Linked DNA regions of Homo sapiens: all the other regions are linked to region 4. Evidence: fine-mapped QTL for protein levels in blood plasma. A gene starts in region 4. Each other region holds a variant in brackets. All regions are shown on one strand. Distances are between the middles of the regions.

Region 1 (5,000 bases), 310 kb before region 4:
CAAATTGACACTTTGAGGGAGGCTACCATGGGTATAATGTATAAGCCTCCATTTGGAGCAGGATCCAAGATCAATATGGATACATTAGATTCTACTTTTTAAAATAAGCACTCATCTCATTTCAGACTATGGACATGCTACTGAGCTTTACTATCCTTAATCCTTAGTCTAGTACCTCGGTATCTTCATTAAGTATGAAAGGTTATTTCTATTAGGACTTGCCTCTGAGTCCCAAACTGGGACTCAGGATCAGATCATGGAGGAACATGAAACTCTTATGTGGATGATGACATGGATTGGGCATCTGTGGTGGTTCTGGAACTTCAGGATTCACCTGATCTGCCTCCTACTTATCTTTGGAAAAATGTAAAGTATAGGATCTTTCTACCACAATCTTTACTACTGTAGGGAGTTTGATCCACTGACTCTTTTCAAAAGACCTCTCAGTGTTCAAGTACTTTTCTTTAATGCCATTTCTTGAGAGTTGGAGCTACAGTTGCTCTAGATGTGTCTAGGTCTGATCTTTTCTCCCCATACTCCTTGAGCCCCTGATAACCACCATTCTACTTTCTATTTCCATGAGTTCAGTCTTTTTAGATTCCCCATATAAGTGAGATCACAAGGTATTGGTCTTTCTGTGCCTGGCTTATTCCACTTAACATAATGTCCTTGAAATTCATCCAAATTGTCAAAATGACAGAATTTTGTTCCTTTTTAAGGCTGAAAAGTATTCCACAATGTATATATGCCACTTATCTTTCTTTCTCTTTCTTTCCTGCCTGTTTTTCTTTCTTTTCTTCTTTCTTTCCTCTTTCTTTCTCTTTCCCCTTCCTTCTTTTCTTTCTTTCTTTCTTTCTTTCTTTCTTTCTTTCTTTCTTTCTTTCTTTCTTTCTTTCTTTCTTTCTTCTTTCTTTCTCCTTCCTTCCTTTCTTTTTCTTTCTCTTTCTTTGTTTCTTTTTTCTTTATTTCTCTCTCTTTTCTCTTTTTTCTTTCTATTCTTTTCTTTCTCTTTCTCTCTCTTTCTCTCTTTGTTTCTCCCTTCCCTTCCCTTCCCTTTCCTCTTTCTTTTACAGGCTCTCACTCTGTCACCCAGTGAGTACAGTGGCACAATCATAGCTCACTGCAGCCTGGAACTCCTGGGCTCAAGCAATACTTCTGCCTCAGCCTCCCGAGTAACTAGGACAACATGCACATGCCACCACATCTGCCTAATTTAAAAAATTTGTTATAGAGACAACATTCTTGCTATGTTGCCCAGATTGTTCTCAAAGGTCTGGCTTCAAGCAATCCTCCTGCCTTGGCCTCCCAAAATGCAGGGATTACAGGCATGAGCCCCCACACTCAGCCTCAATGCCATGTTTGACTTATCCTTTCGTCCATTGATGGGCACTTAGGTTGATTCCATATCTTGGCTACTGTGAATAAATGCTACAGTGAACATGGGAATGCAGATATCTCTTCCATTTACTGATTTAATTACCTTTGGGTACATATCCAGTAGTGGAATTGATGGATCATATGGTAGGTCTATTAATTTTTTGAAGAAACTCCGTACTGTTTTCCATATGGCTGTACTAATTTATATTCCCATCAACAATGTGAAAAGTTTCCCTTTCTCCACCTCCTCGCCAACACTTGTTCAGACACTTTCATCTTTAAAAAAAAATTAATTTTTAATTTTGTGCACACAGTAAGTGTGTATATGTATGGGGTGCATGAGATATTTTGATACCGGCATTTTGATGTGTAATGATCACATCAGAGTAAATGAGATATCCATTACCTCAAGCGTTTGTTCTTTCTTTCTGTTACAAACAATCCAATTTTGCTCTTTAAATTATTTTAAAATGTTCAATCCATTATTGTTGACTGTAGTCACCCTGTTGTGTTATCAAATACCAGATCTTATTCATTCTACCTAACTATATTTTTGTACCCATTAACCACCCCCACTTGCCTGCCCACCCCTCATTACCCTTCCCAGCCTCTGATAACCATCATTATACTTTTTATCTACATGAGGTCGATTATTTTAATTTTTAGCTCCCACAAATAAGTGAAAACATGCAAAGTCTGTCTTTCAGTGCCTGGCTTATTTCACTTAATATAACGACCTTCACTTCTATTCATGTTGACACAAATGACAGGATCTCATTCTTTTTATGGCTGAATAGTATTTCATCATATATATGTACCACATTTTCCTTATTCATTCATCTGTTGGTGAATACT[T/C]AGGTTGCTTCGAAATCTTGGCTACTGTGAGTAGTTTTCATCTTTTCGATAATAACCATTCTTATAGATGTGAGGTAGTATCTCTGTGGTTTTAATTTGCATTTCTCTGATCATTGGTGATTTGAGCATTTTTTCACATACCATTGGCTATTTGTATGTCTTCTTTTGAGAAATGTCTATTCAGATACTTTGCCCATTTTTAACCTTGTTTTTTTTCTTACAGTTGTGTTGAGTTCCTCGTATATTTTAAACATTAATCTCTTATCAGATTTATGGTTTGTAAATATTTTATCTCATTCCATAGGTTGTATATTCACTCTGCTGATTATTTTCTTGGCTATGCAGCTTTTTAGTTTGATGTAATCTCATTTGTCTATCTTTGCTTTCCCAGTCTGTGATTTGGGGTTAAATCCAAAAAAAAATTATGCAGACAAATGGCAATGTTTTCTTATAGTGGTTTTAGGTATTTAATCCTTTTTTAAATATGGTGTGAGATAAGGGTCTGATTTCATTCTTCCACATGTGGATATTCAGTTGTCCCAACACCATTTGTTGAAGAGACTGTCCTTTCCCCACTGTGTGCTCTCAGCATCTTTGTCGAAAATCATTTGACCTTAAATACATGGATTTATTTCGGGTTGTCTATTCTGTTCACTGGCCTCTGTGTCTATTTTTATGCCAGTGCCATGCTGCCTTGTAATACAGCTTTGTGGTGTATTTTGAAGTTTGATATTGTGATACTTCCAGGTTTGTTCTTTTTGCTCAAGATTTATTTGGTTATTTGTTTTTTGTGGTTATACAAAGTTTAGGATTGCTTTTTTCTATTTTTGTAAAAAATGTCATTGGCATTTTGGCAGGGATTATATTGAATCTGTTGATAGCTTTTGTTAGTATGGATATTTTAAATATCAGTTCTTCCAATCCATAAACACAGGATATTTTTCCTTTTATATGTGTCCTCTACAATTATTTCATCAATGTTTTATAGTTTTCAGTGTACAGGTCTTTCACCTCCTTTGGATTAAATTTATTCCTAAGTATTTGAAATTTATTTTGGTAACTATTGCAAACAGGATTGTTTTCTTGATTTTATTTTTCAGATAGTTTGTTGTTAGGGTGTTAAAGTGCTACCCATTTTTATGTGCAAATAAGGATAATTTTCTTTCTTTCTTTCTTTCCAATTTGGATGCCTTTTATTTCTTTCTTTTGCCTAATGGCTATGACTAGAACTTCCAGTACAATGTTGACTAAAAGTGGCAAGAGTAGGCATTCTTGTCTTATTCCTGATCTTGCAGGAAAACCTTTCAACTTTTCACCATTGAATAAGATATTAGCTGTGGGTTTATCACATGTGGTCTTTATTGTGTTGGGGTACATTCCTTCTATGTTTAATTTCTGAGAGTTTCTATCATGAAAGAATGTTGAATTTTGTCAAATGCTTTTTCTGTGTCTGTAGAGATGATCACATGGTTTTTGTTCTTTATTATATTAATGTAGTGTATCACATTTATAGATTCGTAAATGTTGAATCATCCTTGCATCTTTGGGATATATCTCACTTGATCATGATGAATTATTCTTTTACTGTGTTGTTGCATTTAATTTGCTGGTATATTTTGAAGGTTTTTGCATTTATGTTCATCAGGGATATTGACCTATAATATTTTCTTGTAATGTTCTTGTCTGGCTTTGGTATCATTGTAATGCTTTCCTCATAAAATGAGTTTGGATGTACTTCTCTTCTTCAATTTTTTGAAAGAGTTTCAGAGGAACTGGTATTATTAGTTCTTCATTAAATGGTTGATGATTTCAGCACTGAAGCCATCAGGTCGTGGGCTTTTCTTTCTTGGGAGAGGCTTTTGGTAATTGATTCAATCTCCTTACTTATTATTGGTCTGTTCAGATCTTCTATTTCTTCCTGATTCAACCTTAGTAGGTTATATGTGTCTAGGAATTTATCCATTTTTTTCTAGGTTATTCAATATGTTGGATAATAATTGTTTATAGCGTTCTTTTATAATCCTTTGCATTTCTGTAGTGTATTTTAATGTCTCCTCTTTCATTTCTGATTTTATTTGTTTGAATTTTCTTTCCTTTATTCTTGGTCTAGCTCAACATTTGTTGATTTTGTTATTATTTCAAAACACCAACCTTTAGTTGAGCTGTTCTATTGTTAGATAGAATAGAATAGAATGTTCTATTTCAACAATAAAATGTTGAGCAGTTCTATTGTTTTTCTACTTTGTATTTCACTTATTTCTGCTCTGATTATTATTTTCCTCCTTTTAGTAACTCTGTGCTTAGTTTCTTCTTATTTTGTGTGTCTTAAGGTACAATGTTATAGGTTGTTTGAGATCTTTCTCCCTTTTTGATGTAAGTGTTTATTGCCATGAACTTTCCTCTTAGAACTCTTACTGTTGCAATCTACAAAAGTATTTGTTTTTGGCAAGTTGTGTTTCCATTTTCATTTGTCTCAATACATTGTTAAATTTATCTTTTAACTTCCTCATTGTCCCACTGGTTGTTGAGGAGTATGTTGTTTAATTTCCACATATTTCTGCATTTTCCAAAATTCTTCCTGTTATTGATTTCTAGTCGCATACCATTGTGTTAAAAAAAAGATACTCAATATGGTTTAAAGTATCATTTCAGTTAATGATCTGGACCTTAAATGATGGCAGCATAATCAATGTTAATCACAAACCAAAGGCTATTTAGTGTTATTATTTTAATATGCAATATACTTACCAGGCCCCCCAGCACTCAGT
Region 2 (5,466 bases), 1.0 Mb before region 4:
ACAACCAGTAATACTTTTTTCAATAAGAATAAAAACAAAAATAATAGTAAGCAGAGCTGTGTTTCTAACCCCAAAGAAGCTGAAGACCTTAGTTTAGATACGTCATAGGAATTCCTTAAGGAGTCCTCCTTTACCTCCTGCCAATACACCAAAGGAATCTTTTCTTGATAAATTCACCCACACTAGTTATCAAATCCAAACATCACAGAAGTAAGTTAGCATCAATTATTTACCAAGCGAGACAAAGGTTTGTCATTTTTTTCCTATCTTTTCCTTCAGCCCTCTTCATCCCCATTAGTTTTTTAATACTTCTTTAATCTCAGAAGCAGTCATTCCTAGTTTATGTCAAAGTCAGGACTTTGGAATTTGGAGCACTATCTTTACCACTTTCTGTAACTATCTCCAGTTTTAGGCTAAAACTACAGGGCATTACTCTTTTTTTTGTTTTGTTTTTTGTTGTTTTGAGACAGTCTTGCTCTGTCGCCCAGGCTGGAGTGCAGTGGTACAATCTTGGCTCACTATAAGGAGGTCATTCCATTTAATATATAATCACTTATTTTATGATTTGTTTGACATATTAAATTATCAAATATAAGTATTTTCTTAATATACCTCTTCTCTGATTTTGTTGATATAGACTTAATAATAAAATCTTTTAAAAGTTTGTTTTCGTATTTGTAGTGTTCTGACTGGCTGGCTAGCTTTAAAATGTTGCCTTTCTTCCTAGTCCACACTAAAATCCATTGAGTGTTCTAATTGTACAAAACACCATAGAAAAACCTTGTCTACCACTTTTAAAAACAAACTGTGAATGTGAAAATATCTTCTGATGTGACTGCCTTATAATGCTCAATACAGCAGTTTTAATCCAGAAGAATATATGACCTGAATGTTTGTCAAACACATGATATGCAGCAACAAAATAATCTTTATTTTACTTCAGTCTGACAATATAATGTATAAAATCACAAATTGTTTGTATTGGCAAGATTTTATTTTACTAATTCTGAGATACTATAAAAATAATACTCTATATATTTAAAGTATTTATTTAGAAAAAACTGGGAAATAAATTGGAGAAGATATTAATTTTAAGAAAAACAAACTGAAATCAAGTCTTTGTCTTAGAGAACAAATAAGACTCTGAAGAAATTGAAAGAAATCTTTTGAAAAGCAAGAGTGAAGTACTTCAGTGATAAGACACAATGAAGTAAAATCTTCCATTTATAATAGCTACAATGACCTTAATTGAATAAAATCTAAATGTCACTAAAGACAGATATCCACTGGTTTGGATTTGAAATTTAAGAACTATACAATTTTGGATGAATTATAACTTATGATTCTGTATTAGGATTCTTCAAATCCTTTTCAGTTTATAAGCTTTAGAAAGTACACAACACTTTCTAGGTATGATGTAAAATTTTTTAAATATTTAAACCATAGAATACATTATTACAATATGTTCTTTAATGTTGATTTTTAAATGTCAGAATAGATGTAATACCAGTGTAAGCCACAGGGTGGGAGTGAAAGGCAAGAACTTGTGTTGAAGCAGCTTAAATACATAATTGCACCATCTTTATAAATCTTTTAAATGCTTGTTGAATTATAAGGAGCTGTAGCTTGGTTTTCTTTCTTCCTTTAATACAGCTGCATTCTTCAGCAAAGAATCTATAACAAAAGACAAACACGTTGATTTAAATATATAGGCCATTTTTACTGAATATCAAAAGAAGTAGACACATAGATTTTTTTCCCCCTAAGTTTCTGAGCGTATGAGGTGCTTGGTGAACAGAGCAGCAATTTTGATCAATAGTTGAATTTGAGAAATTTCTTGAATTACCAGTACCGGAAATAGTAATTGAAGTTACCAGAAATATTTCATCTCTTCAGACTTTCCTTCTTCATTTTCCTTTTTCCTTGATTTTTCTCATTTAAAGAAAAAAATCAATTGTATATTACATATAGGTCTATAAGCTGTCTCAAGTTATTTTTCAGTAGGGAAGGTAAATAAAATTTCCTTTGTGTTTTCTCTTTACTCGACCTCATTTGAATTTGGGAGCAATTTAAAGTAGTAATAGTAATCATTTTGTATGTTTAAGGTAAGAAGACAAGAGGTTTCTTCTCCTAGAAAAGAAACTTCAGCAAGGAGTCTTGGCAGTCCTTTGCTCCATGAAAGGTAGTTCTACATCCTTTTTTCTCAACTCTTAAAAATTATCAATACTGAAATATATTTTATATTTGTTTTTTTTAAGCTTTAACAATTGCAAAAAAAATAGCCTTTTAGAATAAGTGGAAGTGACCAACCCCAGAATCCTACATGTTAAAGATGACCTAAACAAGTCATGCAGTTAATAGCAGAGCTGAATCTAAAACTTGAATTCTGTAAAGCTCTACTATTTCAATAGACCAAGTGTTAAGGTCGTATTTCTTTATATGGATGGCTCCTAATGTGAACCTTACCAAAATGAGGAATATTTAATATTCTATTTAAGATATTTGCAGAGAACAAAAGTCAATGCATTGAAATTTCTAATGTGAGAATAAGACAGCCAACATTAGTGTATATATGAATAAGTAGATATGCTAGACTATACTATATTTATGTATTAAAACTTTTAATTTATCACTTACTTTGTGCCTGGCCCTCTACAAACACAAGCTGATTTTGGGGACATTGTTTAGGAATTTAAAATAATTTTTTTTTACTTTTAAATAATTATTTTGTGGCACATAAAATGGTACTACATAAGTTTGATTATTTAAAAAACTTGGAAGTTATAGCTTTACATTTTAAAATGTTGATTTTTTTTTTTAGGGGTAATATAGAGAAGACTTTCTGGGATCTGAAAGAAGAATTTCATAAAATATGCATGCTAGCAAAAGCACAGAAAGACCACTTAAGCAAACTTAATATACCAGACACTGCAACTGGTAAGATTTAATTTAATTTACAGTAATATTGATTTGCTTGATTGAAATTGATTTCCTTTTGAATGTGAAAATATTCCTGAATGCCTATTAAGTGTGTAGCATCTGTAATTTACCCCTCATCCACGTATGTTTGAATGTGTACATGCTGTGTAAGTTCTGTAA[T/C]GTATTACATGTGTAATTGTTGGTTTTTTTCTCTTTGTTGTATATGGTACTATATAGATTAAATTGAAAGACATAATTACTAATTATCTTAATGAGACATCCCACCTTAAAAAAATACAAAATAAATACAGACTATATCCCTGAAAGTTTTCAGTTGTTTTTTGGGGGACCTTATTAAACATTAACTTTTATGTTAATAAGTGACCTTGAAGCCACACTACCATATTATATGAGCTAAGTAAAATTATAACATCAGGTTTGTTTGTAAATTCTGCCTGAAAGTGCATTACATACACTATGGATAGATGTTTTTTTAATGTTCTTTTTTTTTTAATTCAATACAGAATCTTGCTATGTTGCCCAGACTGGAGTGCAGTGGCTATTCACAGGCCTGATGGTGCACTACAGCCTTGAACTCCTGGGCTCAAGAATTCTTTGAACTCATTTGGTTCAAGAATAAAAACGTGGCACTCAAATTTCCTGAGTGCTAGTTGTGTTTAATGCACAAAATACACATTTAGTATAAAATATAATTTAGAAGGAACATTTGTTTTACATATGTGTTATAGTATGTTTTGTAAATGCTGTACCCTTTCCTAAAACCCCAGACTGGCTTCCTGGTGTTTGCTTCAGTAGTTCTATATGAATAGCAAAATCTAAGGGATTAGGTCTGGCAACCAAACACTTCTGCAAACAAAAGGAAGGTAAACTGATCATTTATAATGATAAATTCTCCTTTACCTTTGTGATTTGAGCTATTCTGCAGACAATTCCCAAAGGATGTGATTTACAGTTTTCACTCTGAGAGATGTTGCAGTCTTGCTGACTAACACCCTTTTAATTAAAGATCACTTTCCATTTCTTGCAGCTCTTACATCTAGGCTATTTAAAATCATTTTATAGTGTAAATTCACTTTTTGCTACTACTACCATTTTATTTTCAGAAAAGTTACACAATGTGGTATTACAGAAACAAAATAATCTTTGTAGACAGACATAATTTGGTTCTTTCTCTCCCTTCCCCCACCTCCCCAAAAACAACTCTTTTCTTCACCTTAATTTTTGTCATTTTCATGAGAAATTGATCTTTTGTATGGACTAAAGATAACTAGGTACCTCTGAAGTAAATGAATTATTTCTGTTTAAAATATGCTAGCTATGGAGATGTAGTACCTAGAATTCATAAACATGCTTTTTTGAACATCAACATCTTTTCAAGGCATTGTAATGGTGATATATTCTTTGTTACACAGAAAACTTATCTCATTATCAATGGCTTAATACTTTGACCATTTTTAAATTGCACAGGTCTAAATCTGAGTATGTGTCTGTCAGCTAGAACACTGAGTATTTAACTTCAATTTCTTCTCCACTAAAACTGCTTCCTGATGCCTTATTTTTATGCTTTATATTAACAGTGTCACAAATAATAAGTACATTATTCTCAAAATATTTTGTGCTACAGACTCTAGTGAAGTTTTGCTGGGGTCCAAAGAGAAACCAAAATAAATATTATACTCTGACAGTGGTATATCAAAAGGAGAAAGGAAAAAATATTTTTTGAAAAGATGCCTATTCAGGGTTTCCAAGTATGTATGCTACACTGTATAAAAATATAGAAGAACTATTTTGAATATGATTTGCACAATATATCTGGGAAGAGTACGTGTATTGTCCCTATGTTATTTTGTATTAAAATTTGATTTTTACTTTTAAATAACCAGATATGATTCATTTGAAAATACTGAGTTAGTAGAATTCTACATTTCCTATTTATTATTACTTTGTTTTTTCTACTCATCTACATATGGCAGTAGACTTAAGAAATGATAAAGATAAAATGTATGTTTATCCATAGCTTCAAATAAAGTACTGTTTGGTTCATAAAGGAGTGTCCAATTTCAGTAGAGATTGGGAAGGAAGAATATAGGATTAAGGGTAACAAACATCCATGAGAAGGGTAATAAACAACCATGAGGTCTTTTTCTTTTGTCAATATACAACGTGATTATACTGAGAAGTAACTAAATGGATAGCCTGTATTTAAAACTGGGAAATCTAAAAATATTTCCCATTTTACTTTTTCCTTGCAAAGCTAAGTAGTCTTAAAATAGACAAAATAGAAAAGCTATTTGCTCACCTGATCATGTTTCTCAATATGGTGTCAGGATGACAAGTGCTTTCATGCATCTCATTTGAGTTTTAAGTTGTCTCAGCTTAGATTTCTAGTAGCATTAGGAATGTAAGGTTTAAATTTTTTTAATAGATATTAACTCTCACTGCTTGAGCAGATTAACTCAGATTATTTTAATGTGGCTGAGTTTTATGCCAGCTAGCTTTGCTGAAAGAAAATATCTGTTTTTTTAG
Region 3 (5,000 bases), 46 kb before region 4:
ACCTTTTAAGCATAAATTTGCTCAGTCAGTAGGTTAAAAGCAACAAATGTGGAGGTTGGAGGTACATGTTCATTTGCCACCCCACCCCCCCCAGATAGGGTGAGGATGCTACCTTCTATGTGGAGGGAACCCATTAAAGTAGCATGCTTGGCTCATGCTAAGCAGAGGAGAAATGATTTTTTTGTAGAGTTCTGAGAAGACTTGGGTATGAGTAGCTCCTTCTGTCTTTCTTCTGGCATCTTTCTGCCTGCAGAGAACATGCTTTTGATCCGTTCCTCAGTGCTGTACCTGTGCCAGTGCCAAGCCCCATGGAGGAAGATGGTGGCTGCCCTGTCATACCTATATTTGTGTAAGTATAATTCTGGGATGCAATATTGGGAAACCACACAGCTTTACCACATTTTCCAACTAGCCTTTACAAGTAAAGATAATATTTTGGTTTCCTGCCTGAATCCTAGTCTAATTTGGAAATGAGGAAAAAGGATAGTATTTATTAGGCTCCCTCAAGACTCAAAACTTCCTGTGTGGAATCTCAGAATTTTATAGAATGTTATTGCAGAGATTTTCATTTTGGCCAGTTTTTCATCAAAGTTATGAAAAAGGACAAATACACATATTACATTTTCAGCCAGCATGCAAAGAAATGAGACATGAATATAAATTTCTAGACTCTAATCAACCAGCATCTACCCTGTGGAATTTTCATGAGTGTGTAGTTTCAATAATGGAAACTTGCATATCTTTTTTTTTTTTTTTTTGCCTAAAAAATGAGACAGATAAATGACTGACTGTATTTGACACTGGATGAAGGTGTGATCCTAGTGGCCTAAACATCAGACCTTGAGAAGCCTACCTTGCATGCTTTTGTTCCATCAGCATCATCGATATAATTTTACCTGTTTTGATCCTATCATCTGGGACTTACTAACCATCCCTCGGGAGAGTTTGAAGTTACATAATGAGGCTTTACTCTTAGTCCTGAAGGGAAAGATTTCAAGGTTTTTCCTATGATGGCGCAGTGACTCATTTTACTGGAGCTTCAAAAACACCAGACGATGTGATGCTTCCCACACAGTATATTTTTTGCTAAATGGGAAATTACCATACTGCCGAGGAAGAGTGAGTGGTGGAAAAGTCAGGCGATTCAAGTTCTAGAAAGGACTCTTCCACCAACTTTTGATGAGAGCTTAGGCTTTTATTCTTCATCTCTTCAGTGGGCACACAGGCTCAAGTAGATATTAGGAAGACAACGTAATACAAAATGTGAGATAGTGCCTTCCAAAAACATTAAAGCATTATACAAATGCAGAATGCATACATATATAAATGCATGGATGTAAATGTAGTGTCACTGATGCATTCATCAGCAAATGCATCAGCATAAAACCAGCTTTTTTGGTAGACTGCAAGGGACAGCAATGTTACCTCATATCTATGTTAATTCCACAAACATTGAATGTCTATTATGTATTAGACATTCTTCTTGGTCTTAGAAATACAAAGATTAAAAGAATGTAGCCCCTGCCTTCCAGGAGAAAAAGATAGATAAACAGATGACTCAGTATAGTTAGCTCAATGATACTATGTGCCTGGCATGTAAGCTTTCAATCTATGTTGCATAAATATATAGCTTAGGTTGAAAAATGTTGCATATAACTTGAGAGGGACATTTAATGTATACCTTTAAATGCCAGTAACCACAATCAGCACATATGGTCATGAACAACAATCTCTTGACATTTCAAAGATGCCATTGACCAAACATTTTATGAAAGTGTTATTTCAAACTGACATCTTTGTGCTATCTTCAAGGGAGAATTTGGGTTAAAATGCTTATTCATGTCCACGTAGTCAAATGAGCTGCAGCTCAGGTTCCGGGGCCAGGTGGCTGGACTGAGGGAAGTGGCATGTTAGGGTAGCCTTCATTCTGGTTCCCTTTATGAGATCTTCAGGGCCTCTGCAACTGAATAGGGATATCAAGCAGTCAAAGATTCCATTTGTTCTTTAAGCC[A/C]CATACCCCTACCAGGGGAGCTGATACCAAAACAGGAGGGTAGCATACATTTTGTAATACCTTTTTCCAAGTACTCTAACTCTCAGCCCCAAATTAGGAATAAGCTGGAGGGAGGTGACAGAGATTGGAGAATTAGAGATTCCCGAGTCAGTTTTCCAAATCTCCATAATGACTACTTAGACCCCAATATATTTCATTGATCTATATTGGCCTCTTAACCTAACCTGTTTTATTGTTTGCCACATGCTCAAGATATAGATAAAAGGTTGCACATAAAATAAAATTATATGGGTAGAAATTATTCATTAAATGTACGTATGTCCTAAACAACCAGGAAATGTTTTGTAGATTTTATTACTTATGGTTTGTTATATTTGATGCATTACTTACGATGTTTTCCAAATTTAGAAAGGACAAAGGTTCATCTTCTATCCCCATTGAAACTACAGTTTGAGGAATGATTGACCTCCGACGTGGGCATCTCGGGTTTCCAAGCCGTTGTTCATTCCCCTGGATGTGAGAGTTTGATATTTCTCTGGGCAAAGGGGGCCAAAAGTCCAGCAACCATTTTATCAGAGAACATTTCTTTTTCTGCGATTGCTCAGGTCTTGCGAAGCCTAGCTGACGGGTTGCCTCTGCACGCAGTCTTAGTGCTGTGGAATGTGGTGGTTAAGAGCATGGGACTTAGAGGCAACAGCACTTGCTTCAGTCCTGGCTGATGCTTAGCTGCAGTGCGGACCTTTTGGCAAGTTACCCTGTTTCCCCAAACTCTGTTTCCTCAGTTGCAAAAAAGTAAAGATAATAATACCTTCCTATCCTCCTTTAATTTTTTTTCTATAAGCACAAGATAAGATTCTTACATATAACAAATGCTCATTAACTGTAGCTACGAATTGATCAGATAGAGGTGAGGAGGATGACAACCATGCCTGTGGGGATGCTGTGCTTATGTGAGGTCCGTTACCTACCGTAGCAGACAAGTGCATAGTACTTGGCGTAGTCGCTGAAACTTGCTGTGTAATATTGGCACCTTTCTTTCCTTAGATGGCAAGTAACACACTTCTTGCTTGGAGGATAGCTTCCAATGCTAATTCTAGAGGGAAATGAAAATAAAACTAAGCTGAAATTTTGAGATTGTATTTATCAAAATGTACTACTCCATGTAAAGTGACTAATTTACATATTGACATCAAACCCACTCTATTTTTCTGTTGCCAATATCATTTAAAGTAAAGGGGAATCACAGTATTTTGATGTAGCTTGATTTTTGATCCATCTTTGCCTTAATAGGCACAAACCTTGAGGAAGAAGCCCTATGTGGTTTCCCTGGAGTGGGAGAAATATCTAACACCTCAAATGGCAGTGAGGTAGTCACTTCCCATAACCATTCATCTCTTACACTTCACAAAGTGCTTGGGAATGCATAGTTCTTCGTCTTTCTATCTCTCTGTTTCCACCCCATGGCAAAACATAGCAAGAAAATCTGGCAGTATCACCAAGAAAGAGTCCCTGTTCTTACCATATATCAGGATGGGGAAATTAATAATAAGCAAATTGGAAATAAGAAATTACAGTTCTAAGTGCCTTCTGCGCCTTCATTCCTTTCAGCAGGAAATTTGGGCTCATGGAAGCTCAGGCTGGGAATGCCCCCTCCACACAGTCTACACAAGCCAATCTGCACTGCCCACATTGGCCCTACACTCACCCTGCAGAGTCATCTGTGTGGTTCCTGAGCAGGGTGATTGGCTTCAATACACAGACTCAGGGACCTTATCCGACACCCTCAGAATCAGAATTCCATGTGGAGGAGTTTAGAGGATGTCATGCCAGGGTCTGGACAGGTCAGGACCCCATGGTGCCTGTCAGGGTCTCCTGTGCCAACCTGTGAGTTTCTTCTGCTGCTGTCCCTGACTTTGCCTTGGGCATGGCAGAGAATGGCCAGGCCAGAGACACTGCTGGACCCAGAGAGTGATTCTTTTTAACACATAAAGTAAGATCACGATCCAGGAGGGAACAGGGGAATATGACAGAGGGAAAATTTCTTATTTCCTCTGTTAGGGTTAGTATGTTAACATATGTCCCTATTCGGGTGGAACTTTGGAAACATTAGGGAGGCAGTTAACAGCAAGGGCTCAGAGATCAGCATGCCCAGGTACAAATCCTGGCTCCAACAACATTACCTGCTTCATAGTGCTGTTGGAATTAAATGAAATTACATATGTAAGTCAGATTAAAAGGTGCCTGGCATATAATAGACTACCAGCATGTAGTAACTATTGCTTTCCTTTCCACACCCAGAAAGGGCTGTCGAGGGCACCATTTCAGTCCTCAAGGGAACAACTGGACTGAATGTAAACACTAATATAGGAACAGACATGGGTGGTGCCAAAGTGAGACAGAGTGAAGGAAATCACATATTATCAGAATAAAAACAATGCCTGGTTCATACTAGGTACTCAACAAATGTGTGTTAAATAAAGAAATGTCCTCAATTACCTCTATATGTACTTAAAGTGTTTAGTACCAGAATAGTATTTAGTATTCATGTAAACATTAGAATTTCTTGTTTTTTCCTTTTGAAAACAAATATTTTGAATTGGCTAACATTTTGCGAGTGTGTGTTTTTTATACCCATTCTCCAAATGTTTTCTCTAAATTCATAAATGATTTTTATTATGTGCCATACTTTAAAAATATTTTGCATCTCCTGGGGATGATGACTTTTTATATTAAAATATCAACACATAGAAATACCAGAATGAATGGACATAAATTACCTGTAGATGTTTCTTCTTCCAGGGTATTCTTCAAATTCATTGCTAGAATAAAACCTGAAAATATATTCAGAAATTATTAAGTATTGATAAATAAGTGATAATAGGATTGTTAGTATTAATACTAATATAGTATCAATATAGGTAAGCATTTATCTAATGAAACAATTAATTGGTGCTTAAGTACACAAATAACTGCTGTTCATAACTGAACT
Region 4 (5,452 bases):
CATTTCTTATTAGAAATTATAGCTTGAATTCCATAGTGAAATTCATCCTTCCCTATGGACATGGAGGCAAGTGCCCTATAAAATTAACAAACTTTTGTTCCAAGAACATTTATTTCTGAGGGTGCAGAGTATCAATTTCAAGGTTGAGTTTCTTTAAAAATCAGGAGCTAATTTTTAATGAATTAACATTCAAAGGATCTATATGACCTAATCCACTACCTGACAATTGCTGGTATGAGGGAAATGTGGCCCCAAGACCACTGAGTTCAGAGATGAGTCTGAAAACAATTTTAACATGAAAATTTATGAAAGATATGTACACACACTACATACCTCTCAACAGCCTAAGAAGAATCTTGTGCTGGCAGAGAGCAGAAACAAAGACTGAAATTAACACTGAAGATATCAGCTGACTTCATCTTATGGGTTAACCTATTCTATTTTGTAATTCTGTGAAAATCTCATGATTATTTTTAATTTTCGAAAACATTTTTCTATGTTCTTTTTAATAGCAACAGTCCAGTCATTCAGGACTCATACATTCTTTAGCTGAAGTTATTTTATTGATCTTCATTTACTATCAGTTAACTTTTAACCAAGATATTTCCCACATTTGTTATCATAAACTTTTAGTATTTATTAGTACAAATTTTTCCCCTTTCCTAGACACAAAGACATAAGACCTGTTATTACTGGATTTTTTTTCCATTTCAGAAGCTTGAGTTTCTCTTCATAAATATTTTCATAAAAAGCTATTTCCCTAATATCACTAGATTATCTATCAACATAGTCCTACTTTATATTTAAACTAGCTCTGATATCAGCCCATAGTACCTTCCAATTTTTAGCAAAGTGAGATCAGTGTCAATCTAAGCCTTTTTTGTAAAAGGATCCAATTTATGACTGATCAAAATGCTTGCTTAACAATGTTTGGTTTTCTAATTTGATGTGCAGTGCTACTACATCTAAAACAACAACTTTGCTTTTTCTATACAGCTATTCCTGAGATCTGTATTCTCAACTTCCTCCCTAAATTTTTGGAAAGACTATTTAGTAATAAAAAAAGTCCATAGATTCTGTTTTAACTTTTCCATTCTTACTCATTTTTACTTTCCACGAGACAAACCTAATAATGAAAAGCAATGTTAGTTAAAAATGTTGTTTCTAAAGGCCTGTCAAAGCTTGTATTTAGCATATATTTTTGGGGGTTGTGGGGGTGATGCAGCATAGTTCTTAGGTTTTTCTATTGCTGAAATAACACTGTAAATCTCTTCCTACCCATGCCTTAAATTCCTCAGTATTTCTGGTCTTGCACAACAACATATCTGTGAGCTTATATGTCTTCTTAGAAATAACAGACTTACTTTGGAACATAAGCACTTAGGAAATGTTCAACCACTTGTGATCTTGCATTAGTACATTTTCCAAGCTATTCTAGGCAGATAGAGCAAATCAGAGAAAGTTCTTACCTCTTGAAGGGCGTAAGACAATGCACATCACCAATAAGGCAAGCACAGCAGAGGTGGCAACTCCAAATACGATTTTTACCCAAGTCTACATAAAATAAAGAGAATTAGGCATACACACAGTTCCTGCTAAATAGTAGAAATGGCAAGATTTTGTTTACACCTAAATCCTTTTTCTCTCGCCCCACAAAGCTTTTGATTGTTTTCCACTGATCCGGCTATAATTGCTGGAATTCTTCCAGCTCTGCAAGGACAAATGTTTCTACAGTATATTTAGAACAATTTTCCAATCCCAACCCATTGAGGAAGTAAATACTTATGTACAAATCTTCACCTTCTAAACAATAGAAAACTCTGATCACGTTCAATCCAGCCAACCCTAATTTTTTAAGAATACTTGAGGTTGCTTATACTAACCTTCATTTTTCCAGATGTTTTTGAAAGTTAGCTAATTCTGTCTTCAGAGCGTGGGTCACTGGATCTGTGAAAACCGTTGAAAAGGACCAAGTCTGTCTTTGTAGTTGGAAGCTGAAGCCAGGACAAGGTTTTTTTCTTTCCACGGACTTTTGAATACCGTGCCAAGTTTCAAAAGATTTCTGTAAAATTAGAAACAGATTTTGGGGGCGTTCTTGGCCCTCAAATGAACTGTGAGTGACTCAAGGGAAGTTTTATAGCCTTCTCATCCTTGTAACTACACCAACATCTGCTTACGTTGACATACAGAGGTTTTTATTTTTTCTTTTTTACCAGTTCAGGTTTATGTTGCATTTTCTTCTAGAATTCACTGAAGGATCACTTTAGCAAGTCATTGGGTTTTGCATAACATTTTTATTTGCCACTAAAAGATGAATTTAAAATAATGAAACTTGCAGGTCTGTACATTAAACATATATCTACTTTTTAACAGAGGAAGAACATTGAAGCCACATAAGATTTTGTGAGAAATGTGCCATATAACTGCACTTTTTTTTCCTCTGGAAGATTATGAGGTATTGCAGACAGAAATGTTTTTCTTTCAGCACAATTTCTTTGTCCATATAGCACCATATGCACTTTCAGTAAATACAGAAGTTTAAAAATTCAACTGTCTAAACCCACGGCTGCTTTACTTTAAAGAAATAAAATGCCATCTGGTGAAATTTAGTATGGGTTAGGTGTGTATGCACAGGCTAGAAAGATGGAAAGATCAGTAAGAATAATTTACCAGCAGACCTTTGGAAGAATGGAAATGGCTTTACAAGAGTGGTATTTTTGCTTTCCTCTCAGAATATCTTCTGAGAGAGGAGAACATCTAGTAATTATAAAGATTTAAAAATAAATAAAAAAGCATCTGAAAAGAAAAGTAAATCTTATGTATAATTTCATTTTGGCTAAATCTACATAATTCCAAAGAAATTGGTCATCTTGACAGATTAGTAAAATGGTTGACTGAATTAAAAAAAATACACATACAACAGTTTCTTGGAGTGTTCTGTCTGTTTTAATGCAATTCACTTGGATAGATTTTGTGGTTCCACGTAAACACAGTTGTTAAATCTACTGTGTCCTTAATTTTTCCACTAATGGTTTTCTTTTTTCGAAGTTTATAATGTTCCCAACCTGATTAAAACACTTCATGGCAACCTTTCTTGGATTGTACATGAAAGGTAATGGGGAAATGTTACCAAAACATGTTGCTGTTTGCCTTAGTCAACTTCTCTGGCTACCACGGGACACTTTCTCCAGCAAAGAGCAGGACAGTGGCTTGTGAACTTCCTTTCAGACATTCTCCAGACATCCCTCCCTGAATTCCAGCCTTATGAAAATTCTGTTGAGGAAAATGAGTCATTAGGCACTTACTGGCAGAGAACTGTATTCCTGGTGGCTGGGGCTGGGCCCTCTCCTTTGCTGTTGGTGGAGTCACCTCTTTACAAAATGAAGTAATCATTAAGAGTAATATCCAAGGTGTGCTATACACTTGTAGGTATCTCCAAGTGATTGTGAAATCCTCAGATCTCAGATAAAAGCCAGCAGCCAGGTCCTGAATGAACTGTTTCTGTGTAAGTCCTCTCAGATTGATTGTCTTCTCTGGAACACACCGTGTTCTCAGAAGTTCTGCCCTAGCCTGCCAAAGCCCCAGAGTACACAGGCACTTTTTAGTGGGTGATTTCCAAGACTTTACATTGTAGAGAGAAACTATAATAAATTATTAGGGTGTAATTAAAAGACCATGCTGAGAGCATGTTAGCTCTAGCAATTAAGAATGCACTGACATGTGACTGGTCTGAGCACCACTTAGGATTCTATGACTGTGTGTGGGTGTCCACAAGATACTCATTTAATAGGCTCTATGAAGAGGTTGGAGTGCTTTAAGATACACTTAAGTTGCCACTATTAGTAAGGGTGGGAAATGATGAGAGTGAAACAATGTCTGTTTAAGTTTTTTTGTTTTTTCCTTGGAAGGTTGGGTGAGTCAAGCTGTAACTTCTGGAAAATTCTTACTAGTTTGAACTGTTTTAAGAAAAATGAGACTGACTGCAGAAATAAAGATGTCGAGTTTTTCCATCTGAATTCATGGTTTAGGGAGGTATTGTTTTTATAAAGTCACACATGTTCATTCGTTTGAGATAATGTGAATGTATTCTAATTTTCATCCAGACAAGAACTCTCATAAAATTTGGATTTTTAAAATATTGTAATATCTTTATTAGCTTTTTTTAATTTTGGAATCAAAATGAAAATACTTTTGTCAACTTTTAAAAAACATTTACGAAACTGACTCTTATTCCTACTTTATACAATTAGTTAACACCCCATCAACATTTTTGTTGAGAAAACAAAAATGAATCAGACACAGTCTGTGCCCTTAAGGAACTTACATTCTAGTATAAGTATGGCAGGTATGTTCTTAATGTTCTTACATACTTGTTTCCTTTTGCTTCCTAAAGCTCTTGTTCAGAAATAGCCTGAAGCTGAGTTTGTGTTCTGTAGAAAGAGTGTTCTCACTGGTTGGTGATTTCTTCATGGACCTGGGAAGAGGACTGGAAAGGGCACATACCACATGCATGTCATCCTTAGTTCAACCTTTGTTAGTTCTAACCTTTGTTAGTACTGAGACTTTTCTCAGAAAGCAACTCTGGGTCTATTAAAATGCTGCAAAACCAGAAAGGATGATGATTTGTCATGTAAAAATGTAAGGGCAGCAATTAGGAGAGTAGAGGCTCATCAACTGAGTTCTTTCCAGAGAGGGACCTTGTAAGGCTGACTTTGGAATATGACTGCATTCTGGTAAGCCCACTGGATAAGTGAGCTATAACATAAATCCTTAGGTTATAAGGAGGAGAGCTTACTAGAACTATTTATTAGTAGCCAATGTTTACCTGCCAAAAATGATTTTAATTTATATGTTTTCCCAGAAAACACATCCAGCTATGTATTTCTAGAGTCTGAAGGTAAGACCATGCTGAGAGCATAAGGATGTTATCTTTTTATTTTATGGTGGGGAGATGAAAGAGAGATGTGTTTATTAACCAAAAGCCATGACAAATTATTTAAGGACAAGTTACAAGGGGAATAAGGATACAAGTGCAGTAAACATAAGCCTGATTTTATACTCTTTAAAGTAAAAATTTGCTTCTAGAGAGCCTAACAGCTCCTAACATCCTACCCATTTGATTCCTCAGATTCAATAAACATTTATTGTTTACTGTTATCTACAAAGTGATTTTAATGCATTATTTCATCTGATCCATACCAAAACTCATTTTGATGATTAGGAAACAGCCTAGAAAAACTGGATAACTTGCCCAAGATTTTAACAGGACCCAGTGTTACCACCTTACATTGCTTCTTTGTGATACTTCCTAAAGTTTTATTCCAAAGTGATAAATTTTTTTTAAAATTATAATTGACATTTCACTGATTTGCTGTTGGGGGACACTTAAGGTTGTGAGGGTAAAATAATTAAGGCTAAAATATTAATGATGTTCACATCCTCAAAGTACTTT
Region 5 (5,466 bases), 900 kb before region 4:
AGGTCTGCTGCCCATTTAAAAAATTAAGTTATTTTTCTTTTTATCATTGAGTCATAAGAGTTCTTTTTATCTGTGGACACAAGCCTGCTCATATGATTTTCAGATATTATCTCTCAGTCTATGGCTTATCTTTTCACTTTCTTGAGGGCGACCTTTGAAAAGGTTTTAATTTTGATGAAGTCCAATGAATCAGTCTTCTTCTCTTTTTTGACTTCTGCTTTTGATATCATGCTAAGAAATGCTTGTCTAACCCAAGTTCATGAGGATCTACTCTTGTTTGCTTCAAGAGTTTTATTGTTTTATCTCTTATATTGAGTTCCGTGATCCATTTTGTACATATTTTGAGGTGGGAGTCCAAATTTATGCTTCTGGATGTAGATACTCAGTTGTCTCACACCATTTGTTGAAAAGACTATTCTTTCCTCATTTAATTGTCTTGGTCCCTTTGTTAAAGATCAATGGACTATTAAATGTTAAAATTTATTTCTGAAATTTCAATTCTGTTCTCTTGATCTCTGTGTCTTTTTTTTTTTTTTTTTTTTTTTTGAGACAGGGTCTTGCTCTGTCACCCAGGCTGGAGTGCAGTGCCGTGATCTCAGCTCACTGCAACCTCTGTCTCCTGGGCTCAAGCGATCCTCCCACCTCACCCTCCTGAGTAGCTGGGACCACAGGTGCATGCCACTATGCCCGGCTAATTTTTCTATTTTTTGTACAGACAGGGTTTCACTATGTTGCCCAGGCTGGTCTCAAACTCCTGACCTCAAGCAATCTGCCGACCTCAAGCAATCCGCCCACCTCTGCCTCCCAAAGTGCTGGGATTATAGGCATGTGCCACTGTGCCTGGCCTCTATTCATATTGTTGTATAATACATTTAAGATTTTTTTCTTTATCACTGATTTTGGGTTATGATATTCATTGATGTAGTTTTCTTCATGTTTCTTGTGCTTTGGTTTATTGAACTTCATGTGTCCGAAGGCCTGTTATTTTAATCACATTTGGACAAATTTTGGTCACTGTTTCTTAAATATTTTTTTCTATTCTCCTACCACCCTTCCCAGGAATCCCAAAGATATTTATATTTTTTCTGCTTATAATTGTAGATGGCTTTATTTTTTTCCCCAATCATTTTGCCCTGTGTTTCATTTTTCTGTTGCTACATCTTCAAGTTCATTCTTTTTATTTTTATTTTTTCTGAGACAGGGCCTCACTTCTGTCACCCAGGCTGGAGTACAGTGGCATGATCACAGCTCACTGCAGCCTTGACTTCCCAGGCTTAGGCGATCCTCCCACCTCAGTCTCCCGACTACAGTCATGTGCCACCACTCTCAGCTAATTTTTTGTATTTTTAGAAGACAGAGGGTTTTGCCATGTTGCCCAGGCAGTTCTTGAACTCCTGGGCTCCGGTGATCTGTCCACCTTGGCCTCCCGAAGTGCTGGGATTATAGGCGTGAGCCACCGTGCTCGGCCATTTAATTTTTTTGTTAAATCTTCTATTAACCCCATCTAGTGTATTTTTTATTTTGCATTGTTTTTTCTTCTGGACAACTTATTGACAGCCTAGAGATAAAGTTTTGTCATGCCTCTCTGAACTCACCCCCTGCTTTATCCTATTGCTAGTGGTACATTGTCATTTTCATCCCAAGAAGTTTTATTTGGGTCATTTTTATGTTTTCCATGTGTCTCCTTAACTTTTTGACAGTTTTAAAAACTTCTAAATGTCTTTGCTAATTTTAACATCTTTGTCAGTGCTCAGTTTCAGTTGACTGACTTATCTCCTTACTGTGGGCCATATTTTTTTTGCTGCTTTGTATGTCTGATAGTTTTTACTAGATGTTTCACATTGTGAGTCTTATCTCGTGTGCTGGCTACTTTTTATTCTTAGAAATATTCTTGATATTTGTTATGGGATGCAGTTGAATTACTTGGAAACTGTTTGATTCTTTCTAGTTTTGCTTTTAACCCTTGCTAGTTAAGACTGGGGCAGTACCTTGTTTAGGAGTCATTATTTTCTACTATTGAGGCTAGACCTTTCTGTCTCTTCTAATTTTGTGAATTCTGAAATTTTCTAGTTTGGCTGGTGGGAACAGGAACTCTTTCCAGTGCTGTGTGGGAGGTAGGTGTACTCTTCCCTGTAATCCTTTTGAGTGATTCTTTCCCCAGACCATGCATTGATTCCTCACACACATGCATTGATCATTATTAAGCTGAATACTCAAAGAGGACCCTGTGAAGATCTCTAGGGTTTTCTCTCTTTGCAGCTATTTTTTCTGTGGTACTCTGTCCAGATTACGAGTTGTTTTGGTCTCAGTAATCTCAGCTCTGTCATCTCAACTCAGAGAGTCTACTGTCCTCTGCCTGGGTTTCTTCCCCTCTGCACTGCAGTCCAAAAAGTATCTCAAGGCAGTAAGCTAGGGTAAGGCTCACCTCATTTGTTTCCCAAATTTTGGAGATCGTTGTTCTTTGTTGCTTGATCAGGGTCTTACAAACTATTGTTTCATAGAGTTTTGTCTGTTTTTTCTTTGCTTTAGGTGGGAATGTAGATTTAGTTTCTGTTACTCTATCTGTCTTGGACATAAGCAGATGTCCCTTTTGTCTACTTTTATTTATTTATTTTTTGGGAGAGGAGGTCTTGCTATATCAACAGGCTGGTCTCGAACTACTCAAGGAATCCTCCTGCTCCAGTCTCCTGAGTACCTGGGACTACAGGCATGAGCCCACTGCACCTTATTTACTTTTTAATGGGAAAAATTTGTGTTGGAATATTCTAGATGGAATTCTCTCTCTACTCAGACGTTAGATCATATTAAGATAGTGCTGAGATTTTAAGAAAATCTGTTCAAATTAAATAGTTAATTGAAACCAGATTAACAGAAAGTACTATTCTTAGCATTCAGAGATAGTGAATAAATAAGATGAGGCTGAGATTTATATTGCTTTATGGATACTTAAAATTGAATATGTAGGACAGGATTTCTTAAACAAGATAGCACAAATAATAAAGGGACGATTGATTCATTTTCATCTAAAAA[C/A]ACTAAAAAATAAACAGTTAATATTTGTGGAGCACTCACTGTGTGCCGGGTACTCTTCTAAGTACTTTAAATATATTAGGTCATGTAATCTTTACAACTCTTTGCAGTTTGGTTATTGTCACAGTGCTCATTTTTCAGATGCAGCTGAGGCATGAAGCATAAAAAGCAAACAGTGAGCTACGGCTTGGGAAAGTTTTATCTAACATATAATTGACAAGGTATTAGTCAATTATGTGAGCTTTGACAAATCAATAAGAAAAAGATATCCATTTAAAAATGGGCAAAAGATACAAACATTAGTAGAAGCAGAAATGTACCATAAACATGTATATGCTAGTGAGAGTATACAACCCTCTTGGAAAAACTTTTGGCAGAATCTGTTAACAATGAAGATTTGACTAACCTACAACCCAGCAAATCTTCTCCTAATTACATTCCCTAGAGAACGTCTCCCACATGGATACTGGGACATTCATAACAGCATTGCTTATAACAGGGTTTGATAATCTTTTCTTTAAAGGGCTAGATAGTAAATATTTTAGGCTCATGGACCATATGATATCTGTCACAACTACTCATTCTGCCATTGTAGTGCTAAAGCAGCCATATATTACAAAAATGAATGGGCCTGGCCATGTTCCAATAAAATTTCACTTTAAAAAACAGTCAGCTGGTTTGCCGATAGGTTGTAGTTTGGAGATCCCTAGTTTATAATTTCAGGAAATTGAAAATGGCCCAACTATCCATCAGTAGGAGAATGTGTACATAATTGTACTTAATAGTGGAAGTTTGTAAAGTATTGAAAAATGAATAATCCTCACATAGTTCATACTAATGAAAAAGCACATGGAGGAATAATTCTATACGATTGTTTTTATGTACAATTTTAAGATACCCAAAATGATACTGCATGTTATTTGTGTATACTTATGTAGTAAAGGTATAAAGAAATGCACGATCACTAAGATGAGAATAGCGGTGACATCTGAGGATATGGAGTAAGGATGCAGTTAGTCAGGGAAAAGGACACAGGAGCTTCAACCCAGCTGCTTTAGTGATGTTTTATTTCATAGGCTGGGTGTAGTGAACTATTGTATTATTCATTAGACCTTTTTGTATTTCCTAAATATTTCATAATAAATTTTAAAAGAAATAAAGTAAATAACAGTGGTTAGAAAAAACATTTGTTCCTACTCCAGGTAGTTGTCACGTGGCTCTTTCTTCCTCTCTGCTGCTCACATACCTGGTTCATTGGCCTCTCACTCCCAGAGAGGCATCTTTCTATCTTAGGCCGAAGACAGATCAGCTTTCTAGGTAAATGACCCTTTTGCTCAGTCCGCTGCCGAATTGGCTTACTATAGGTTGGTGCAAAATTCACTGCAAATTTTGCTATTGAAAGTAATGGCAAAAACTGCAATTACTTTTGCATCAACATAGTATCTACAGTCTGTTGTTTTATAAGTATGCGTCAAATCCTAATAGTTCCCCTTTCTCTAGCCTCTCATTTGTTATGCCTTTTGGATATACTTACTCTTCCTAGAGAAAGGATCTAAATTTCTTAATGGAGACCACACAGGCAAAGGATTGCCTTTGGCATTTTCATGTATGCCTGGCTCACAGAGGCATCAGAATGCCTGCTTGGCATGTTTGTGGGTGAGATAGTGAGTCAAAAATAAAAGCTAAAACTGCATTTATTTATAAAGAGATTGAAGAGTTATTTATTGAGCATCTTTTTTGTGTGTGTTTGGTAGTCTTTCCTAGTGTGGAGTTCTTTCAATTATTTCAGTACACTTCTCTAAACTTTTTGACTTTTCTATTTAAGATGTTCGATCAGGTAACAGATGTAGTCTGTGGAGCACTGACCTAGATCCTATGTGAAGTTACAAACAAGTGAATGCCAAACCCTTACAGAGTGTTTGAATTAATGGAGACTTAATTACATGATGAGGAGAAGAGTTGTAGCAGAGAATATGTAGGGCAGCTGAGGTGTGCTCCTCAGAGGAGGGAGGAGAGTCTGCTGTGAGCCAGACGAGCAGGGTGGGGTTGGAGAGACCAGCAGGGCTTGCAAGGTATGGTCTAAACTGTGAATGTTTTCTTGCCTAAAGTAAAAGATGTATTTGTTGATTAATGAATAATTATGTTAGCATTTGGAGAGAGAAGATACTTCAAAGTTGATATTGATTTCCAACAAGATTAAAAATATGATATGTATAACATTGAGATGTAGATTTAATTTGTATTCTTTTCATAAGAGGGAACTGGGAATGTCCATTTGGTGAGGGTACTTAAGTCTTAAAAGTATGCTTATTTAAAGACAAATACGTGGTAACATTTTTAAAGAAATGTTGGTATGTTTAGTAATATAAAGTTGCCTTTGGCTTAAGCTAGGCAGAACAAATAAAATGTGTAAGGAACTTAGAATAGAAAGTACTTGTA
Region 6 (5,000 bases), 25 kb before region 4:
ATGTTTTAGCAACCTTAAGCCTCAAGGAAATATGAGAATGTGGGTCCCAACTTCCCAATCAGTGTCAGTCACTCTTCAGTTCTGGGTTCCCCGTCTCTTCCTGCTCCCATAGGTCCTCCCAAAGATCTGAGTTCTTTTACATCTTGGGTTCCCCCAAAATGTGAGGCCTGTCCCAAACATCTCCAGCTTTTAGAGTTTTTACACAGCTTTTAGACTTTTAACATAAATATTACACTGTCTGCAATTCTATTTCTTTCTCTATGGCCACTTTGGCTTGCTTAGAATTCACTTGTGTGTATACCACATCCAACCGTCTTTGTCACCCAGGGACCCACTGTGTCCAGCCACGACAATATTCCCCTTGGCAAGTAAAAGCAATAGCATCCAAAGAACAAAGAAGTGAATTCTAAAATCGCATCCGATTCCTTGTGCAAGAGGTAAATTTGTACTTTGATTCCATTTTTTCTGATATCATTTTTACATTGAAATTAGGATATAATGCTTCTTCACTGAGACCTGACCATTCTCCTACTGCACACTCAGGTCTCCTCCCTCCAGATGTGAAACTCAATAAAAAGAATGTATAACAACTCTACAATGTTAAATATCCAAAAACTATGGGTTCACACCATGTCTACTTCCTTCAAGGGAGAAATTGAGACTTATAAATTTAACCTATCTTGTACATCCAGAAAGGACCATAACCCATGCCTGCTTCTACCTGACAGGAACATCAAATTCAGCATTTGTATTTCATATTCTAGTTTGCATTTACATGAGAATTCAAGAGAGAATTGCAAAACAGAACTTTACCCTGAATTTGGAGCATGAAATATGAAAAAAATTAAAATTAAGTTAAGCTTGTTTTTCCTCCATGATCAAGACCATATGTTTTTCAAAGATTCTGCAATAGATTTTGCAAAGACTACTTCATCCAGCACAACCAGATGTCCAAAGCAACAGATGTCCACATAAATAATAGAGCACAGTACAATGTTTGCCTTACAATGCTCAAGGATAAGAAGCTCTCCAAACTTGTTGATCCCACCTTTACTCATGGTAAATCATTGCTCATTTTGATACCAGGAAAATGAAAGCATCGCTGAAAGTATTCAACATACCTTTGGGTATGGAATATTTATTGTTCTAGGATATTGTTCATCGCCATAATAGGAATAGGCAATAACTGGTATATCCGTATCATTAAATTCCGCATATGCCAAAAATTTTCCATTAGGAGACCACCAGAGAGCATATTTTGTAGCAAGCATTTCCTCTGAAAAATAAGTACTAGGATATTAACTATAATTACATCTTACTCTTAAAATCATTGTAAATACTTCTAAATAGCTATTTATCAACTGAAATAATTTATTTAATGTGGATGTGACATATGTCATACTTTGGTTATTAAAAAATTACATAATCTGAGTTAAGAGGAATAGTTTACCCTTTCACTCTATATCAAACATCAATTAGCCTTGTTAGAAAATGACATTAATCAGAAATGTAATTTTTTAAATAAATAATAAACATGTTGGCACTAATTAATTTTTTCTTTCAGGGCAGTTTCAGGTTTTTTAGTCACCTAAGATAGCCAAAACAGAAAGAACTATAATTGTACTAGAGAGTGACATAAACATTGAAAGTTACATTTCCCTCCTAAGAGTTAAAAAAAACCAAAAACACAGTTAGTTTAGATAGATAGATAGATAGATAGATAGATAGATAGATAGATAAATAGATAGAGACTAGAAGTCTCTTTAAAGTCCAATTAAGTCCTGAATTCTACATGACCTAGAATGAGAACAAAATCAACAGAGTATCAGAAAGTAAAAATATGTTCCCATAAGATAACATAGTCAGTTGTTTAGTTTTGAAAAAAAAAAATTTCTAAAGAAAAAGTAAACATGAGAAAATGTACTAATGCGGCACCTGAGGACCATATACTTTTTTGGATTATAAATCATTACTACCACTTCATAGTGATGTTATTGAGAATCAATTCTACCAGTTTTCTGATAACAAGAATTTGTTCTTTTAAAATACGTATGCCCTATTCGTAACCTAGAGACAATTTTCAGCAATGCTACCCTTCATGGAAATAAGATACTACTCATCTAAATCTTACTAAATATATGAAATTATTTTAAATTAAAAGCCTAAAGCATTAGCAGTAGAAAAGGAATACAGCTTACCTTCATAAACCCAGTCTGGGATTCCATTAAATATTTTATTTTCTCTTCCATTAA[A/G]TGTTATTTGAAAAGGTGGATCTCCTGGTCTTTGTTTCAAATAGATATTGTTTTGATAGACATATGCCTAAAAGTGGTGGTAAGGGGAAATTCCACAACAAATTAAATGAAGGCTGTATATTTGTTTTAATTATTCCTCTAATACCTTTAAACAGAGTGGTAATAAAGATACAAAAAAGATTCACAACTAAAATACCATTTTAATAGGTCAAAAAATCCAACCAACTCACATTAACATCAATTATGAATTTTAAAGTCTGAATCAAATAAAAAATAAAGCCTATTATTTTCTTAGTTGTTTCATTAACCCCAAATAAATAATTATGTATATTGACAGAAAGTCGAATAAATCTCTGAATATTAATAGCTAGCCAGATCTAATCTTTATTTAGAGTCCTTAAATAAGAGCTTGGACCAAATTTCATGTTGTCTGAAGCTAGTCTGGGAAACTTGTGAAAACCATATTTTTCCTGAGCTTTCTGGCACAACGCATTCTGGCTGAGTATAAGGATAAAGTTTTTGACTGCTATATTTAAAGAAGTCTATCCATGAGCTTGAGATTTTGCGGAATTCTCAGATGGGTTTCAATTTATCAAAACTCTTCCCGTTTTTAACCACTAAAATAGTCATGAATGTATTTTTTTTTCTTTCAGGCAGGGAAATTTAACAAAGGCCAAAATCAAATGGCTCCTCTTTTATTTACATGATTAAACACTTCAAAAATTTAAACACTTACTAATTTACTCCCAACAGGCGACCAGCATAAATACTGAATTGGACGAGGAAGCTCATTTCCTCTTACAAATTCTCTAGAAGGAAAGAAAGAAAGAAAAACAACAAACCTTGCTGTTTAATGCAAAAAAATAATAATCTGTATGAACAGAAAAAATAAACAAACAATGAAAATTAAGGATCATTCCCTCTGCACCCACAAACCTAATGAAAAGAATGCAGGAATGAAGAACTGGAGACATAGGTGTTGATTGCTGTTCTTCCAGTAGTTACTTAAAAGTCACTTAACTTTACTGGGTGTCAGTTTTCTGACCTTTATAGTGAGGTGAATGGATTAAATACTTACAGACTGTCAAAGTGGAGAAGATCTCTAGAAATTATCTAATACAGTCCTCTCATTTTATAGAAAGTAAATATGAGGTTTAGAGAGCTGATAGAACTTTTTAAGACCACATTGCTAGTTCTTGGCAGACCTTGAATTAAACTCAAGTCCTTTTAACCCCTGGGATTGTAAAATTTGCACACACTAGACTGAAATGGTCACTGAAGTGCCTTCCAGCTCTGAAATTCTATAATTGTGCTGAAGTTTAGTATGTGCTCTTCTACATTCTCATTCACAACCCCCATCTCTGTGAATGCATATGCATTTCAAATTTTTGAAAATAAGATGCCATTTGACAATCTCCCCAGGGATCTGACTTGAAATCAGAAAAGGAAAGGAACATCTGATCTCAAGCTAAACTGAAAAACGGATTGTATACTGGGCAGTATGCCTTAAGCTTGTAAAGTCCTCCACCCATGGGGAAATTTCAAATAGTCTATTGGCCAAAACTCTCACTTTGATGCTTAGAGTCACTCTGCAAGCACTCAAGTGACTTGCATTGTGGAGCTTTTGTAGTTCTTCAGCAAGAATGCATTCAGACTTTTATAAGTGTTGCAGAGTCGTAGGATGTCATGCTTACTTTTTGACTTTTGTCATCTTGAAGATTGTATTAACAGTTTCATCGAGACTGCCTTCGTGGGAAAGCAGAGCAAGACCTGCCGCCCAAGCACAATTTGAAGAGCCTCAAAAAAGACTCCTGCCCAACCCCTCCAAAAAAAGCTCTCCAACCTGGAGCTAACATGTGCCTGACATTTCTGCCTTTCCCATTCTTTTAATATTTGGGCAATTGTGAAGATCTGTAACACACACTGCCTTGATGTAACTTTTTAGGTGCCTGCATGAGACCTAGCAAGTAGCAAGGGAACATGGCATAGTTTTGAGTGGGGAGAGTGATTCCCATGGAAAGTGACCATTGGTGCTGCAATGAGAGTCCTGGCCGCCAGAGGGCAGTACATGAGCACCAGGCCCCTGGGTGATCGGGAACATGTTGAAAGGGATGCAAGAGCCCAGTTAAAAGATTGACCCAGGCCTGGCCGGCTCGCTCACGCCAGTAATCCCAGCACTTTGGGCGGCGGATTTCTTGAGGCCAGGAGTTCGAGACCAGCCTGGCCAATATGGAGAAACCCCGTCCCCACAGAAACACAAAAATTAGCAGTGGTGGCACAAGCCTGTAATCCTAGCTACTTAGGAGGCTGAGGCGGGAGAATTGCTTAAACCCGGGAGGAGGAGGTTGCAGTGAGCCGAGATCACACCACTGCACTCCAGCTTGGGCGACAGAACGAGACCCTGTCTCAAAAAAAAAAATAAGAAGACATTCTTCACCTGGTTCACAATTTGTTCTCAAGCTAGTGCTCATGTTACCTTTCATACTGTAACATTGTCTCAGTTTTCTACATACAGTGGAATTATCTATGCAATCACACAAGCAGCACTAAGCTAAAAATCTCAGCGCATGTCTCAAGCCATCACAGCTGCCATTTTCTGTTTTCTGAGTCACTAAAGGTATGAGAAAAGGCGAGGGAGGATGCTTTACAAAGGCGTTCATCTCCTCAGTTTTGCCTACCTAGCTTGAAACCAGTAGTTTTGTTTTCTCTATGCTAGATTTTTATAGAGTCTTCAAAGGCATATAAAAG

Direction of the effects. Alleles are on the strand shown, and positions count from the first base shown. The strength of an association depends on the size of the effect and on how common the allele is.
In carriers of allele C in region 1, the plasma level of the protein whose gene starts at base 2,007 in region 4 tends to be higher than with T alone (moderate association).
With allele T in place of C in region 2, the plasma level of the protein whose gene starts at base 2,007 in region 4 is lower (weak association).
As copies of C replace A in region 3, the plasma level of the protein whose gene starts at base 2,007 in region 4 goes down (moderate association).
In carriers of allele C in region 5, the plasma level of the protein whose gene starts at base 2,007 in region 4 tends to be lower than with A alone (moderate association).
For the plasma level of the protein whose gene starts at base 2,007 in region 4, A is the low allele of the variant in region 6 and G is the other (weak association).

Evidence for each region. PIP is the chance, under the fine-mapping model, that this variant and not a neighbour inherited with it causes the effect. The UK Biobank Pharma Proteomics Project read protein levels with antibody pairs (Olink). The fine-mapping took linkage between variants from a reference panel, not from the people measured, so its PIPs are less certain.
Region 1: its variant is fine-mapped to the plasma level of the FAP protein (UK Biobank, PIP above 0.99).
Region 2: its variant is fine-mapped to the plasma level of the FAP protein (UK Biobank, PIP above 0.99).
Region 3: its variant is fine-mapped to the plasma level of the FAP protein (UK Biobank, PIP 0.97).
Region 5: its variant is fine-mapped to the plasma level of the FAP protein (UK Biobank, PIP above 0.99).
Region 6: its variant is fine-mapped to the plasma level of the FAP protein (UK Biobank, PIP above 0.99). The variant lies in the coding sequence of FAP. If it changes the protein, the assay may bind it differently, which can mimic a change of level.

Annotation. Positions count from the first base shown.
Region 1 is chr2:161,932,348-161,937,347 of GRCh38, forward strand. All of the region lies in intron 15 of SLC4A10 (solute carrier family 4 member 10), which reads left to right. Among named protein-coding and RNA genes, the nearest start is that of DPP4, 140 kb to the right of the region's middle. The variant T/C (reference allele first, on the strand shown) is at 2,233.
Region 2 is chr2:161,221,810-161,227,275 of GRCh38, forward strand. TANK (TRAF family member associated NFKB activator) reads left to right here. Exons shown (of 8, transcript NM_001199135.3): 5 at 2,106-2,182; 6 at 2,822-2,937. PSMD14-DT (PSMD14 divergent transcript) reads right to left here. Exons shown (of 4, transcript NR_110593.1): 4 at 1,449-1,674. Among named protein-coding and RNA genes, the nearest start is that of LINC01806, 20 kb to the right of the region's middle. The variant T/C (reference allele first, on the strand shown) is at 3,100.
Region 3 is chr2:162,195,778-162,200,777 of GRCh38, forward strand. It overlaps FAP (fibroblast activation protein alpha), which reads right to left. Exons shown (of 26, transcript NM_004460.5): 15 at 4,789-4,842; 16 at 2,980-3,104. Among named protein-coding and RNA genes, the nearest start is that of FAP, 45 kb to the right of the region's middle. The variant A/C (reference allele first, on the strand shown) is at 2,012.
Region 4 is chr2:162,241,439-162,246,890 of GRCh38, forward strand. It overlaps FAP (fibroblast activation protein alpha), which reads right to left and starts at 2,007. Exons shown (of 26, transcript NM_004460.5): 1 at 1,884-2,007; 2 at 1,470-1,554. The coding sequence starts at 1,889. It overlaps LOC105373724 (a long non-coding RNA gene), which reads left to right and starts at 4,679. Exons shown (of 4, transcript XR_923544.3): 1 at 4,679-4,733.
Region 5 is chr2:161,344,715-161,350,180 of GRCh38, forward strand. All of the region lies in intron 3 of PSMD14 (proteasome 26S subunit, non-ATPase 14), which reads left to right. Among named protein-coding and RNA genes, the nearest start is that of PSMD14, 39 kb to the left of the region's middle. The variant C/A (reference allele first, on the strand shown) is at 3,031.
Region 6 is chr2:162,216,865-162,221,864 of GRCh38, forward strand. It overlaps FAP (fibroblast activation protein alpha), which reads right to left. Exons shown (of 26, transcript NM_004460.5): 7 at 2,989-3,061; 8 at 2,199-2,319; 9 at 1,122-1,276. Among named protein-coding and RNA genes, the nearest start is that of FAP, 24 kb to the right of the region's middle. The variant A/G (reference allele first, on the strand shown) is at 2,253.